Linked DNA regions of Homo sapiens: all the other regions are linked to region 2. Evidence: fine-mapped expression QTL. A gene starts in region 2. Each other region holds a variant in brackets. All regions are shown on one strand. Distances are from middle to middle. Region 1 overlaps EXOC6B (exocyst complex component 6B). Region 2 holds the start of EXOC6B (exocyst complex component 6B). Region 3 overlaps EXOC6B (exocyst complex component 6B).

What was found. PIP is the estimated chance that this variant, and not a neighbour inherited with it, causes the effect.
Region 1: its variant is the best candidate, but not a certain one, in a credible set for the expression of EXOC6B in cerebellar hemisphere (GTEx, PIP 0.69).
Region 3: its variant is the best candidate, but not a certain one, in a credible set for the expression of EXOC6B in left ventricle (GTEx, PIP 0.74).

What each region holds. Positions count from the first base shown.
Region 1 is chr2:72,176,051-72,180,291 of GRCh38, forward strand. It overlaps EXOC6B (exocyst complex component 6B), which reads right to left. Exons shown (of 22, transcript NM_015189.3): 22 at 1-3,411. The coding sequence ends at 3,285. Among named protein-coding and RNA genes, the nearest start is that of CYP26B1, 30 kb to the left of the region's middle. The variant C/G (reference allele first, on the strand shown) is at 1,829.
Region 2 is chr2:72,823,462-72,827,702 of GRCh38, forward strand. It overlaps EXOC6B (exocyst complex component 6B), which reads right to left and starts at 2,572. Exons shown (of 22, transcript NM_015189.3): 1 at 2,337-2,572. The coding sequence starts at 2,449. RefSeq lists enhancers at 1,567-2,077, 1,924-1,973 and a silencer at 2,164-2,333.
Region 3 is chr2:72,752,689-72,756,929 of GRCh38, forward strand. All of the region lies in intron 1 of EXOC6B (exocyst complex component 6B), which reads right to left. Among named protein-coding and RNA genes, the nearest start is that of EXOC6B, 71 kb to the right of the region's middle. The variant G/A (reference allele first, on the strand shown) is at 1,728.

The DNA.
Region 1 (4,241 bases), 650 kb before region 2:
GAATAAACATGCTCTTTTCACAGAGGAGCTTTCCCCTAACCATGCGGCCCATCTGTATCAGTAGCTTTACAAGTAAGTTTTAGAGAAAAAAGTTCCCTTTAGAGTTAAAAATGGACTTTCCTAATTTTCTCTATATATGTGCAACTATCTGTGTAAAATAAAAATGCCATTTCCAACACCTTTGTGAAAAGTAATTGTGAATGCAGGCAAAAAAAAAAAAAACAAAAAGGAAGAAGAAGAAGAAGAAGAAGAGGCAATTGCAGTCAAGAGAGGAGTCCTGGGAGAAGGGAGGCTAAGGTAGGGGAATTTCTGCAGCAGTTCCTAGAGAGTGTGCTCAGAGGCCTGATGAGGAAGGTCATGGCCAAAGCCAGTCTTGGGAGATAAAAGGCCGTGGGTCTGGGACTTGCTGAGTAAGCACTTGTCAAGTGTACAGTAAGGCTAGACTGACTTGGAGGACTGGTATGCAATGAGAACAGTGGGCAATGCACCCTGGAAGCTCTACATTCCCTTTGCCAACAGGATCTCACTTCCTGGTTCCCATTTTCAGGTCCTGTTCTTCCCTACCTGCAACAGCTTCATTTATAGCCTGCTCAAAGAGATTTTCCCTATGAATGTTAAAATGATGCAAGCAGCCTATATTACTACTGAAACCTAATAGAGTCCCAAACTGAACTGTCCCTTCAGGAATATAGACCTGGTTTCCTCAAGAACTTGGCCAAGGGTTCATCCTGACCAGAAGCCATACAGGCTTCTAGCCATCTGTGTGCTTGCCCTCTTATTGAGGCCCTCCACGGTACTTCTACATCTCTAGGTATTTGAGGCCATATCTGAGGAGTCTGATGGGTCTGGGCACACATGCTTTGCACAAGTCCTCTCAAGGGTTGGCCCAGCTACAGGTTATAGACAAAACTAAAAACATCCCACTTTTCTAGTTCAAAAACTTGACATTGCTGGTCCCTGTTTTTACCTTCCCTGGCCCACCAAGAGTATGTCTCTACATACAACTCAGTAGCTGCATGTTGTTTTTTGTTAGATAAGGTGAAGGCAGACTAAGAATGGAGAGAAGATATATCAAAGGGTCCATCTTTATGTCTTGAGCTTGAATAAGCTTTTCCTTTCATGGGACTTCTGTGCAGAATAACCCCTATTCCTCCACCTTGTTCACTTTTTCCTGTATAGCACAGTTCTTCCAAGGCAGAGGTTTGAGACCAGACCAGCAATGATGATCCTCTAAAAAGACAAACACTGTGCCATGCTTACACATCTCTCCATTTCCACTTCAAAGTCTCTCAGCACTTAAAGCTGAAGAGATCTTGCTGCAAACTGGGTACTAGCAAAGAGAAGTGTTTTGAACTCTTCTCAAGCAATAGAACTTCAGATTAATATAATCGTTTCTCACTTGTTTCAACAAAGATGAGAGCTTGGCGATGCCATTTTGGCTCCTGCCTTCTCTTGGCTTATCAAGTTCTGGGTGGCAGTGCTCATCCCTTACCCTCATTCTGAAACCCTGGCCAACCATCCAGCCCTCAGGATGAGCCTCAGCAGCATCTATGAGCTCACATGTAGCCTGGTCTCTCCAGCTTTGAGGAAATTTGTATGTCTGTGTGCACATCCTCTTCCCCATGACTATCAAGATATGATAGGATATGGTGAGGTAGGGGGGTTGGGGAGGGGCAAGGAAGTACTTCCCTCCCCAGAAGCAACTCAGTAGCTGACAAAGGTAGTGAAGAATTCTGTTTGATGAGTCTCTCCTCCCATCAATCCAAGCTGGAAATGCCTGTGTGGCTTATTTGTCATTGTTTGGTGATGCACAATTATACTCTTGCCA[C/G]TAGCCATCTTTCTGCTACTAGCCAGTAGCATCTTTCTGAAGTGTCTTAAAGTACAGTTTCCCCCGACTGACCTCATAGCAAAGCCCTTGCGTTAAGTCTCAGGAGTCCATCTGGGTCAATGAGTGCAGCCTCCACGCTAAGCTGCTCCAGGCTTTAGAGTTTGGAGGACAGGATTATAGGCAATCTTTCTTAGACAAGGCCAAAGATGGCTTTGGGGATCTCAAAAGAGGGTGGGAACCTTGGGCTTGAGCAACAAAATAATATCTAGGATATTATTTAGTGAAGGACAGTTGGGCCAGAGGCAACAAGCCACAAGCCATGGTTGGCTCTGTCGACTTTATGGTAACAATGTCTCCATCCCTAGAGGCATCCAGTCCAGGCATGGCTGCCCCCACAGTGCAGAGCTGGTGACATTTCCTTAAAGATGATAACCAAAAAGCTGGTTTTAAAACATAAAGGAACAATCCCAACTAATCCTCAGGTTACACCTAAGGGTAAGGTAAAGGCCATTTTTAGGCTTCCGAAATCTGAACTATTTCAATGGCATTACTGGAGGAGGCTAAGTCTGAAACGCCCTGTGAAGGCCTATGGAAGTAACTGTTGATTTATGTCCTGAACCAAGTGCTCTGACTGTAAGTGAAGGAAATGAGATGAACAGGGAAGGGATTGGGTCTCTGATTCCATGAAAACTGGCTTTCAAGATCCAGAAAAACTCTTCGAGTTGAGACTCAACACTCCTAGAGCTGGGGCAATATGCAGTTAAACATGGGATCCAATTATTACTGCTGTCTACTTAGCTGTATCCTGCCCTAGAAAAAATTGCAATAAAAGCCTGGGGTTAGATCAGGCTAAAGAAACCGCCATTCTTGGGGGATTGGAATGAAGCTGTCATCTTGCCATATGCCATGCTTGTTCACAAGCCAGTGAAAGTCAGCAGACTGAGGAGATGACCCTCCAGAGCTGCCCTTAGTGTACTAAATAGTAATGTTTGCCATGCCCTTTCCTTGTATTGAGAAGAATCAGCCTCATCTATGTGGTGAATGGGCATCCAAGAGTGAACAGGACATATTTTAGTATCCTTTTGCTTACTCACTCTACCTCCCAGCGCCAGATACCCACTTTTTATGGTTCCTAAGCCCCAGACCTAAGCTTTAGAGCCATGGATGAAAGGTGGTTCATCACTGTGGAATTGATGATACCACCATCTCTAAGATAACACAGATAGTGTAGTAATAACTTCCCCTGAGTCCCAGCCTAGCAACATCTCATGTACTTGCTTATTCTTGTGCCTCTTTTACTATAGGGAAATGTTATGTGAATACTGCACAGGGGTTAATAAAAAAATACATATGCTCTCTTTGAAGAAGAATGCACAAATGCAGGGTCAGCTGGGGCTGGACCCCAGACTGACACAGAGGCTGCAGCAGGTCGCCTCTGTGGGTCCGGGGTCACCCTTCATGAGTGGTGGCTGCTGATGAGTCCTCGGAGCTGCTTGGCCACGGTGTCAATGAGTTTCTGCTTGTCTCGCTCATTTTTCCGAAACTGTGCAAACATGTTGTTCTTGCGGCTAGTATCCTTCATCCTAAACAGAGAAGGAAAGAAAGAGGGCAACATGTTTGAGGAAACAATGGTGGAAGGAGAACCTGCAGGAAGCAGGATGGCAATGCATCTTAACCACTACCCAGAGTAATGAGAGAGTCCAGAATATCTCCACTGTCAGGCCCACACTCACCTACTCATCAGGAAGCTGGCATTCTGGCACCTATAGCCCTCCCAACTTCAGTCACCTTTGGAAACTGGTCAAGACCCAGTTTTGGAGGGGTCAATCTCCCTACCCCTTATACCTGCTCCACCTAATTCATTCTCTTCTCTCAGCAGGTATGTACCTGCTGTAGGTGTCTGGGACAGGGAACAGCTCTGCTGGTCAATAAGCCCTTATAGAATGTCTAGGATCCACTCATTACCTCATGAACCTACTAAATCCTGATAGGACCTTTGAGATAATATTTGAAAGGTAAAGCAGGAAAAGTGTTCTTAACTAGCAATTCCAACAGAACATGAATAACTGAAGGCCACTGTATATTTCTAAACCTCACTCTAGCTGGCTACTCTATCCTATCCCCAACAAAACTAAGGGCTTGACTGACCTTTTTCCTTTCGTCTCAGGGTAAAGGCACATAGGTGGTGTGGTGGCTAAGAGAGTAGAGTGCTGAGGAAAGCATGGGCCAAATGGCTGGGCCATCCTCTCACTCCATAAACCAGAGCTTTTTACATGAGAAGCCTTTGAGTTCTCAATGGCTGTCTGTACCCCTGGACCTTTGACCTTTGGGTCATGCTAAAGCTTCATAGATGGCATATTCCTAGAACACAAACCATGGGTAATTCTGGCCAGTGGTTCTTTCAGACAGACAG
Region 2 (4,241 bases):
AAAAAAAAAAAAAAAAACAAAAAACAAAAAAAAAGACAGTGGCCAGGCACAGTGGCTCAAGCCTGTAATCCCAGCACTTTGGGAGGCTAAAGCAGGTGGATTGCTTGAACCCAGGAATTCAAGACCAGCTTGGGCAACATGGTGAAACCCCATCTCTATATGAAATATAAGAAATTAGCCAGGTATGGTGGCGAACGCCTGTAGTCCCAACTACTCAGGAGGCTGAGGTGGGAGAATCACCAGGAAGTCGAGGCTGCAGTGAGCAGTGACGATTGTGCCACTGCACTCTAGCCTGAGCAACAGAGTGAGACCCTGTCCCAAAAAAAAAAAAGAAGGATGGTTGCATCCGCACTAAACATGCTACAGACATTTGTCTTGTCATTATTACCTAAACAATACAGTATAACATATATTTACATGGTATTTACATTATATTTGGTATTATAAGTAATCTAGAGATGATTTGAAGTATACAGGAAAATGTGTGTAGGACCATTGACCCTTAAGAGCTGAAGAAAATGGGAATTGAGAAAAGCACAATGGTCCTGATCATAAGGCAATGGGGGTTGGTGGAGAGACAGGCAACTGTGTGGAAGAACTGGTCCAAAAAAGGGAGCTAAAAGTCACTTTAAGGGACAAAGGGGCCAGGCACGGTGGCTCATGCCTGTAATCCCAACACTTTGGGAGGCTGGGGTGGGAGGATCATTTGACCCCAAAAGTTTGAGACCAGCCTGGGCAACATGGCAAAATCCCATCTCTACAAAAAGTTTAAAACTTAGCCAGGTGTGGTGGTGGTGCACAGCTGTAGTCCCAGCTACTCAGGAGGCTTAGGTGGGAGGATCTTAACTCAGGAAGTCAAGGCTGCAGTGAGCTACGATCACATCACTGCACTGCAGCCTAGGAGACAAAAGGGGACCCTCTCTCAATAAATGAATATTAGGTTGGTGCAAAAGTAATTGCGGTTTTTGCCATTGCTTTTAATAAATAAAGAGACAAAAGGCAAACTACTAAGGATAGTTATGACCAGGGGTGGTACTGGCAGAAATGTGCTAACAATGTGTCCTGGAGAAGGAAGCTGTGCAAGTGGAGAGGAGGAGTAATTTCCAGCCTGCCCTCCAATTAGTCTTTCCTGAGTCAACTTACCCCAAGAAAACGCAAGCAGTGAGTAATAACTTTTCTGATGGGAGGGGCAGTGACCCAAGACTGTGCAAGGAGGGTAGGATAGTTATCTATGTATTGGCTGCATGATCAGAATGCATAACAGTAAGGGATAAGGATGAGTTGGTTCTAGGACACCAGTAACATGAGGGGAAGGGGGAAAGTAGTTCAAAACTGGGCTTAGTGAGTAGTTACCAACAGTAAGTACAGGTAGCCGATAATCCCCAGCTGAGGCAAAACAGTGGTTAAGTGTCTGGGTCCAGGCTATCCGAGTAGGAATCTGAGTCCCCCACTTTATTTTCTCTGTGACCTTGGGCAAGTCACTTAACCTATCTGTGCCCTGTCTGTAAAAGGAGAGTAATAGAACCTACCTAATACGGTTGTTTTGTAGCTTAAATAAGTTGCATTTGTAAATCACTTTATACAACGTCTTGGACTTTATGTAACAAGTGCTACCTAAATTTGTTAAATAAGTTGAGGTAAGTAGGGATTTCTTTTGACATCTCCAAATAAAATGGAGATGTGCGTGCAAAAAAAAATGATAACTGGGGGGCGGCAGCAGGGTCAGTTTTCCCCAGCGATGAGGAGGCTGCACCGTGGGCGAGGGTCGTCCTCGTAACAGGGAGGCAGGGATAAAGGAGCAGCGGCTCCCAGGAGAGGGGCGCGGGTTGGGGAAACTTCCATCCAGGCCTAGGATTTCCAGGGACTCGTTTCTGAGAAGTGGCTGTGATTCTGAGGCAAGACTTTGATTTCGAGCACTAGACCATGGAGTGAAATTCTGTGTTGTCTGAAGAGCAGGACTCCTGTCTAGGGCAGGACGTAGTTAGAGACGGAGGGAGAAGGGTGATGTCCCCAGGGGGAAGATCTGCCGGGAGCCACCACCATCTGTCGGGCGCCCTCTCGTTCCCCAGCGCCGGACCAGCCTCGGAGGGAGAACGAAGGCTGCTCCTGCCCCGAGGGAGGCAGCGGGAGGGTCCTGAGTCACTGGGCTGTAGGGCGCCGGGAAGGGACCCCGCGTCGGGGCTGCGAAGGGAGACCCGCCTCGCCCGGTATGCAGGGTCTCTCCGAAGGGAGGGGCCGGCGCCGGACCTGGGGACAGCCGGCCGGAGGCCCGACCCAGAGGAGCCTGCCCCGTCCCGCCCGTTCCCGCCCCTCTGTGGTCCCGGCACCCGGGGTACCTGAGCGTGGGCCCGATGCAGGCCGTGTCAGTGCTCTCGATCTCTCGCAGGATCCGCTCGTGCTCTGCCGCTGTCTCCAGGCTCTCCGCCTCCGCCATCTTACCCCGCTCCATAGACTGGGGGCGCCCCGCAGCGCGTCCCCTCCGTCGGCTCGGCTCACCTTTTCCCTGCCCCACAATGCCGCTCCCACCACAGGCTCCACAGCCGCCCCAGCCTCTGGCTACCCGCAGGCCGACCCCTCCCTCAGGCTCGACACGCCCCCTTGCGTCACCGCGTCCGTCGGCGTTCTGCGTAATGTCCGCTGGGATTTGTAGTTCTCTGGGAAATGCTAGGTTGGATTCCATTCATTCATACATGGAATCCGCAAATACTAGTTGAAGCCCACTGTAAGCAAAAACAGTTAACGACAGTGCGTAAACAGTGATGATCAAGTCAGGCAGTGGCACTAAACCTACAAATTCTTGTTTACCACCTTTGCCACAAAGTGCCAAGGCTCCGTCGGCGCGAATAATAAAGTCTAACTTAATGTCTGACAGAGGCCTTACAGTCTAGTGGGGGAGACACGGGGAGCTGGAGAATTCAAAACTGTGAGCTGTAAGCCAGTTCCGATAATGGAGTTCAGAGATCTCTTCTGGTTGCCAAGGCTTCATAAAGACACTGGGTTTCGGAGGTTAAAAGGCATAACTGGAAGGTGTGAGGAGAATCCAGACAGCCAAAAAGAATTTCATTTGCACTGACGTGTAAAGACGTAGTAGTAAGGGATGGGTCTGGAAAGGTTCGCTGGAGAGAAATTACGAGGAGCCTTAAATACTGGGCTGATAAATGTGTACTTTGTTCTAATGGTTCCACTGATCCAACAACCAACTGCAACAGAAGCACCTGGAAACATTTTTTTTTAATACAGACTGACTGACAGTCATACATCTGGAGATTCTGATCCAGGCATCTGCATTTCATGAACTCATCAGTTACAATTTAAAAATCGGATTTATTAATCATTGCTTGAGTTTTTACGTAACACAATGAATGGGAAGGCACTGAAGGTTTTTTGGGGGTTTGTTTGTTTGTTTGTTTTTGAGACAGTGTCTTGCTCTGTCGCCCAGGCTGGAGTGCAGTGGGGCGATCTCGGCTCACTGCAAGCTCCGCCTCCCGGGTGCATGCCAGTCTCCTGCCTCAGCCTCCTGAGTAGCTGAGACTACAGGCGCCCGCCGCCACGCCCGGCTAATTTTTTTTTTTTTTTTTTTTAGACTGAGTCTCGCTCTGTCGCCCAGGCTGGAGTGCAGTGGCGGGATCTCAGTTCACCGTGAGCTCCACCTCCCGGGTTCACGCCATTCTCCTACTTCAGCCTCCCAAGTAGCTGGGACTACGGGCCCACGCCCTGGGACTACCACGCCCAGCTAATGTTTCGTATTTTTAGTAGAGACGGGGTTTCACTGTGTTAGCCAGAATGGTCTCGATCTCCTGACCTCATGATCCGCCCGCCTCGGCCTCCCAAAGTGCTGGGATTAGAGGTGCAGGTTTTTAAGAGGAGTGACACAATCAAAATGTGGGCGTTAGGAAATTTGGTGAAGGGCAAGTGTGCAAGATGTGCAGAGACAGAGAATTTGGAGATAAGGCAACACTGTAGGAGATGAGAAGGCCTAAACCAGGGAAGCAGCAATGAGAATGAAAAAGAATGAACAAGTAGGAAAAACATCAAAAAGAGAGAATTGACAGGATTTACTAGATACCAAAAAGGTTAGATATTACTCCAAGGTTTAGTACCAGAGTGACTAGTAGAAGAGAGTTTCCACTGACAAAAAAAAAAAGGCATGAGAGAAGAACCAAACTGGAAGTTTAGGCTAAATAATTTGTGCTACAACCATACTATAGACTATTATGCAATCATTAAAAAGAAAGACAAAA
Region 3 (4,241 bases), 71 kb before region 2:
GTAATCTGTTTCTTACCTATAACCACTCACAATGAACATATTCTTGCTAAAGTCAATAAAAGACTATTAATTGTCAAATCAAATATTCACTTTTAATTTCATCATTTACTTGACTCCACTTTTGTATGTGCCACCATGAACTATCCCCTCTTTTTAAAATCTCTATTCCCACGGCTTCTATTACACTCCTTCTTGGTTCTCCCCATTCTCAGTCTCCTTCAATAATTCTTCTTCTTCCCTCTACCCCTGAATACCTCCTTGACCACTTCTTCTCACTCTTCACATATATATATACCCTCAGAGATCTCATCAATACCTCAGTTGTTAGTATTAAACAAGTCTGGTTACCAAACCAATAATACCAGGATATATCTCTGTCAAGTCCTATAAACCTGACTCAAAGACATCGCAAACCGTGCATGTCAAAAACTACTCGGCTGGGCATGGTGGCATGTACCTATAGTCCCAGCCACTCAGGAGGCTGAAATGGGAGGATCTCTTGAACCCAGGAGTTCAAACCCAGCCCAGATAATATGGCAAGGGGCATGTCTCTTGAATTAAAAAAAAAAAAAAAGAATTTAACTTTCTACCCAAACCCACATTTCACTCCTAGTATTCACCATCTCAATTGAAGATAACACCAGCCACTGAGTTACCTAAACTAGAAATATGTACATTAACCTTGACACCTCACTTCACCTCACACCTCCTCATAACTAGTCACCAAGACCTACCGCTTCTAATTAAATAATGGCTCTTCTATGCTCTTTCCCCTCCCTATTCTCCCCAGCTACTGCCTTGACTCATGTCCTTATCATCTCTCTTCTGAACACTGTTTTTATCACTTTCCCCTTATATTCGTAACAATCCATCTTCAATACTTCTTTGACAGTAATTTTTTAAATGAGACCTTGTACTTGGAAATTGAAAGACAGAAATACACACACATACACACAACTTCAGGATCTTGTTTCAGGATCAAGTCCAAAGTCCCTAGCATAGTATGTAAGATGCCCTCCATGTCCAGCATTATCTCTGAATACTCCCCACATTCACTCTACAACTCTACTTGAAGTTCCTTGAGTGTAGCATGTATTCCCTCTGCCTGCAATGTCCTTACCATCACTTCTCTGGCAAATTCCTACTCATCTTTCAAGGTTCAGCTCAAAACTCAACTCTTTCCTAAAACGTCTCTCCTTAATACAACTACTATAACCTGATACAGAAGCTCCTTACCTTTTTAGTTTTTAGGATTTGTTTTTGTTTTTGTTTTGAGACAGGGTCTCACTCTGTGTCCCAGGCTCAATCGATCCTCCTGCCTCAGCCTCCTGAGTAGCTGGGACTACAGGCAGGCACCACCATGCCTAGCTCATTTTTTTGTAGAGACAAGGTCTCACTATGTTGCCTGGGATGGTCTCAAACTCCTGGGCTCAAGCAATCCTCCCACCTCGGCCTCCCAAAATACTGGGATTACAGGTGAGAGTCACCATGCCCAGCTCAGAAGCTGCTCTTCTTACCAACAAGGTAGAACACAAGAAACTGCTTTGGTTCATAAAACCAAAGCAGCCACGAAGAGCTTAAGCTTGCATACTCTGGAGGAATTTATACCAAACAAGATCATGAGTCCATTCTTTAAAGATTCAAATTCAATACCATTTTTCTCCTACTTGCTGATATGAGGCATCTTTTCCCAAATGACACCAATTTCTTTTTTTTTCTTTTTGGTA[G/A]AGATGAGGTCTTGCTACATTGCCCAGGGTACTGTCAAACTCCTAGCCTCGAGCAATCCTACCACCTCAGCCTCCCAAAGTGCTGGCGTTATAGGGTGTGAGCCACCACACCCAGCCAAATTTAATCTACAATAACAGTCTCTTGCAGCATGTATTAGTCTAGTTCTATGTATTTCATTTTTTTAATAGCTTTTTTTTTTCTTTTTTTTTTTTTAGAGACAGTATCTCACTCTGTTGCCCAGGCTGGAGCACAGTGGCACAATCATGGCTCACTTACAGCCTCTAGCTTCTGGGCTTAAGGGACCCTCTAGCCTCCGCCTCCTAAGTAGCTGGGATTACAGGCATGCACCAACACAAGCAGCTAATTTTTTAAAATTTTTTTTTGCAGAGATGGGGTCTCACTATGTTGCCCAGGCTGGTCTCAAACTTCTGGGCTCAAGCGATCCTCCCACCTTGGCCCCCCAAACTGGTGAGATTACAAGTGTGAGCCACAGTGCCTGCTCATAGTCTAGTTCGATAAGGAATATATTTAAAAATCTATTTTTTTTAATGAAACAAAATCTATTGAAGCACCTAGCCCTATCCTTGATAAGGAGTGTATGATAAGGATATAGGATAAGAATTACTCCTTAACAGTCATGGTATAATCATTCACCAACTGGCTCTCACTTTGACACTGTATAAATTTGAACTGGCCTTGAACCTATGAAGCCATATGTGGTTTGAGGTGAATTTCACCAGGAGTACTGTCATCTTGTTTTGCCTCAAAGTTCTTGAACAAATGCCTAGTATTATCCAGAAGTTACATTAGGATAATGGGCCTAGAAATGAATGGGCACCACTACTAATGATATTTACTGGTGGAAAGCACAGTTCATGTCCTTTTGCTTTGAAATGTTTATTTGTTCATATTTTTGAAAGGGTACTACGGTGAACACTCTATACAGTAATGATTTATTTACATGTCTATCTCCCCTATAAGACCATGAGTTCCTTGAGAGTTTACACCTGGAACAATGGCTGTATCCCACAGAGAAAGCATTATAAAGTGACAAAGAGCCAAAGCAGTGCCCAAAAATGTTTCAACATTTCATCTTACCCCAAAGAGAAGCACTAGAGTTCAATAATAAATATTTTTACCAAAAAGTTAATTCAAGTTCTAGCAGTGCAAATAATTTGCACTTCAGCTAAAATGTTAAACAGAAAAAGAAAGAAACAGAGGAAGAAAGGAGAAATTTAGATGGCTAAAGGAAATCTATTGTAGGAGGAGAGTAGTGTCTGGCAATAATTTGTTATTTCCCTAGCTCTCCTCTAACCTCCTCTGGAAGCTAGGAGAAGGAAGATGATTAAACTGCAACAAGACCTGGCTCTGAAGAGAACTGATGTTTCTGGCCCTTGTTGCCAACAGAAGGGGGAGGGTGACAGCAGTCCCTACGGGCTTTTAGAAAAAATTGCTTCCAGGTGGAAATTTTTTATGGTACTGAGCAGCCTGGAGCCATTTTTGGCTTTACTTCTTAACTACTGATGATTAAACCATGGACAATCAGGCTGCAACAATGGAAACAGACAGCTCTCAAACATCATGGTTATATGCTCCAAATTACAAAGTTAACTCTCAAAGGAGAGAAACATTTTGTTGGCAAAATCTTTTTTTAAGGGGGACGTTTTTAACTGTGTTGGGGCGGGGGTTGTCAGGTGGAGTCTGTTAAAGATTTATATTTGGTAAAACATAAAAGTAGCCAAGAACTCTGTATCATAATGATAAACATCAGTCCCATGCCAAACCTAGACACTGTAATGCAGAGTCATAGGGAGCTGAACAAAGGACAATGCTAAATGTCCTGGTATTTCAAAATTTTTCATTACTTTATTTTGGCCTGGATTAAGCATTCTATTAAATGATTATCATAGATGTCTGTAGGGAAATCCAGCCACACAACATGTGGGACAGCTAAGTCGATTTATAACCTAATCATGGTTCTGAAAAAAGTTGTGATATATATTTCTGAGTTTGGAGTGATGGCTCAAGAACATTAGCAGAAAAAAGTTACTTATAGTACCAACTCATATGAAAAGCAAACAAAAACAGAGACCAATTATTTGACCACCCAGTAATTTAATCTATGCTATTTTATTACTGCACTATCATCCATACCATTAAAGGTTAAATTCAGCCCAAAATTATAAAATAGTAGTAAAAGTAAGCATTTTTAAAATACGTGCCAAATCCTGTTAAACATTTTATATTCACTAACTCACTTATTCCCCAAATATAATCCTAGCAGAATAGTTATTATCATCATTTTGCACATGAAGCAACCTTTTTCACATTGCCAGTACATAGAAGCATTTACCTTTCCCAGGTTGCCACAGTTATATAAAGTATAATAAAATGAAGGAAAAAGGATGAGGGAAAGGAAAAGGAAGATGAGTAAAAGGAAGAGGAAGAGGAGAGTAAGAAGGAAGGTGAGGTGAAGAAACAGATGTAAAACTATATACACATTCAATATAAAG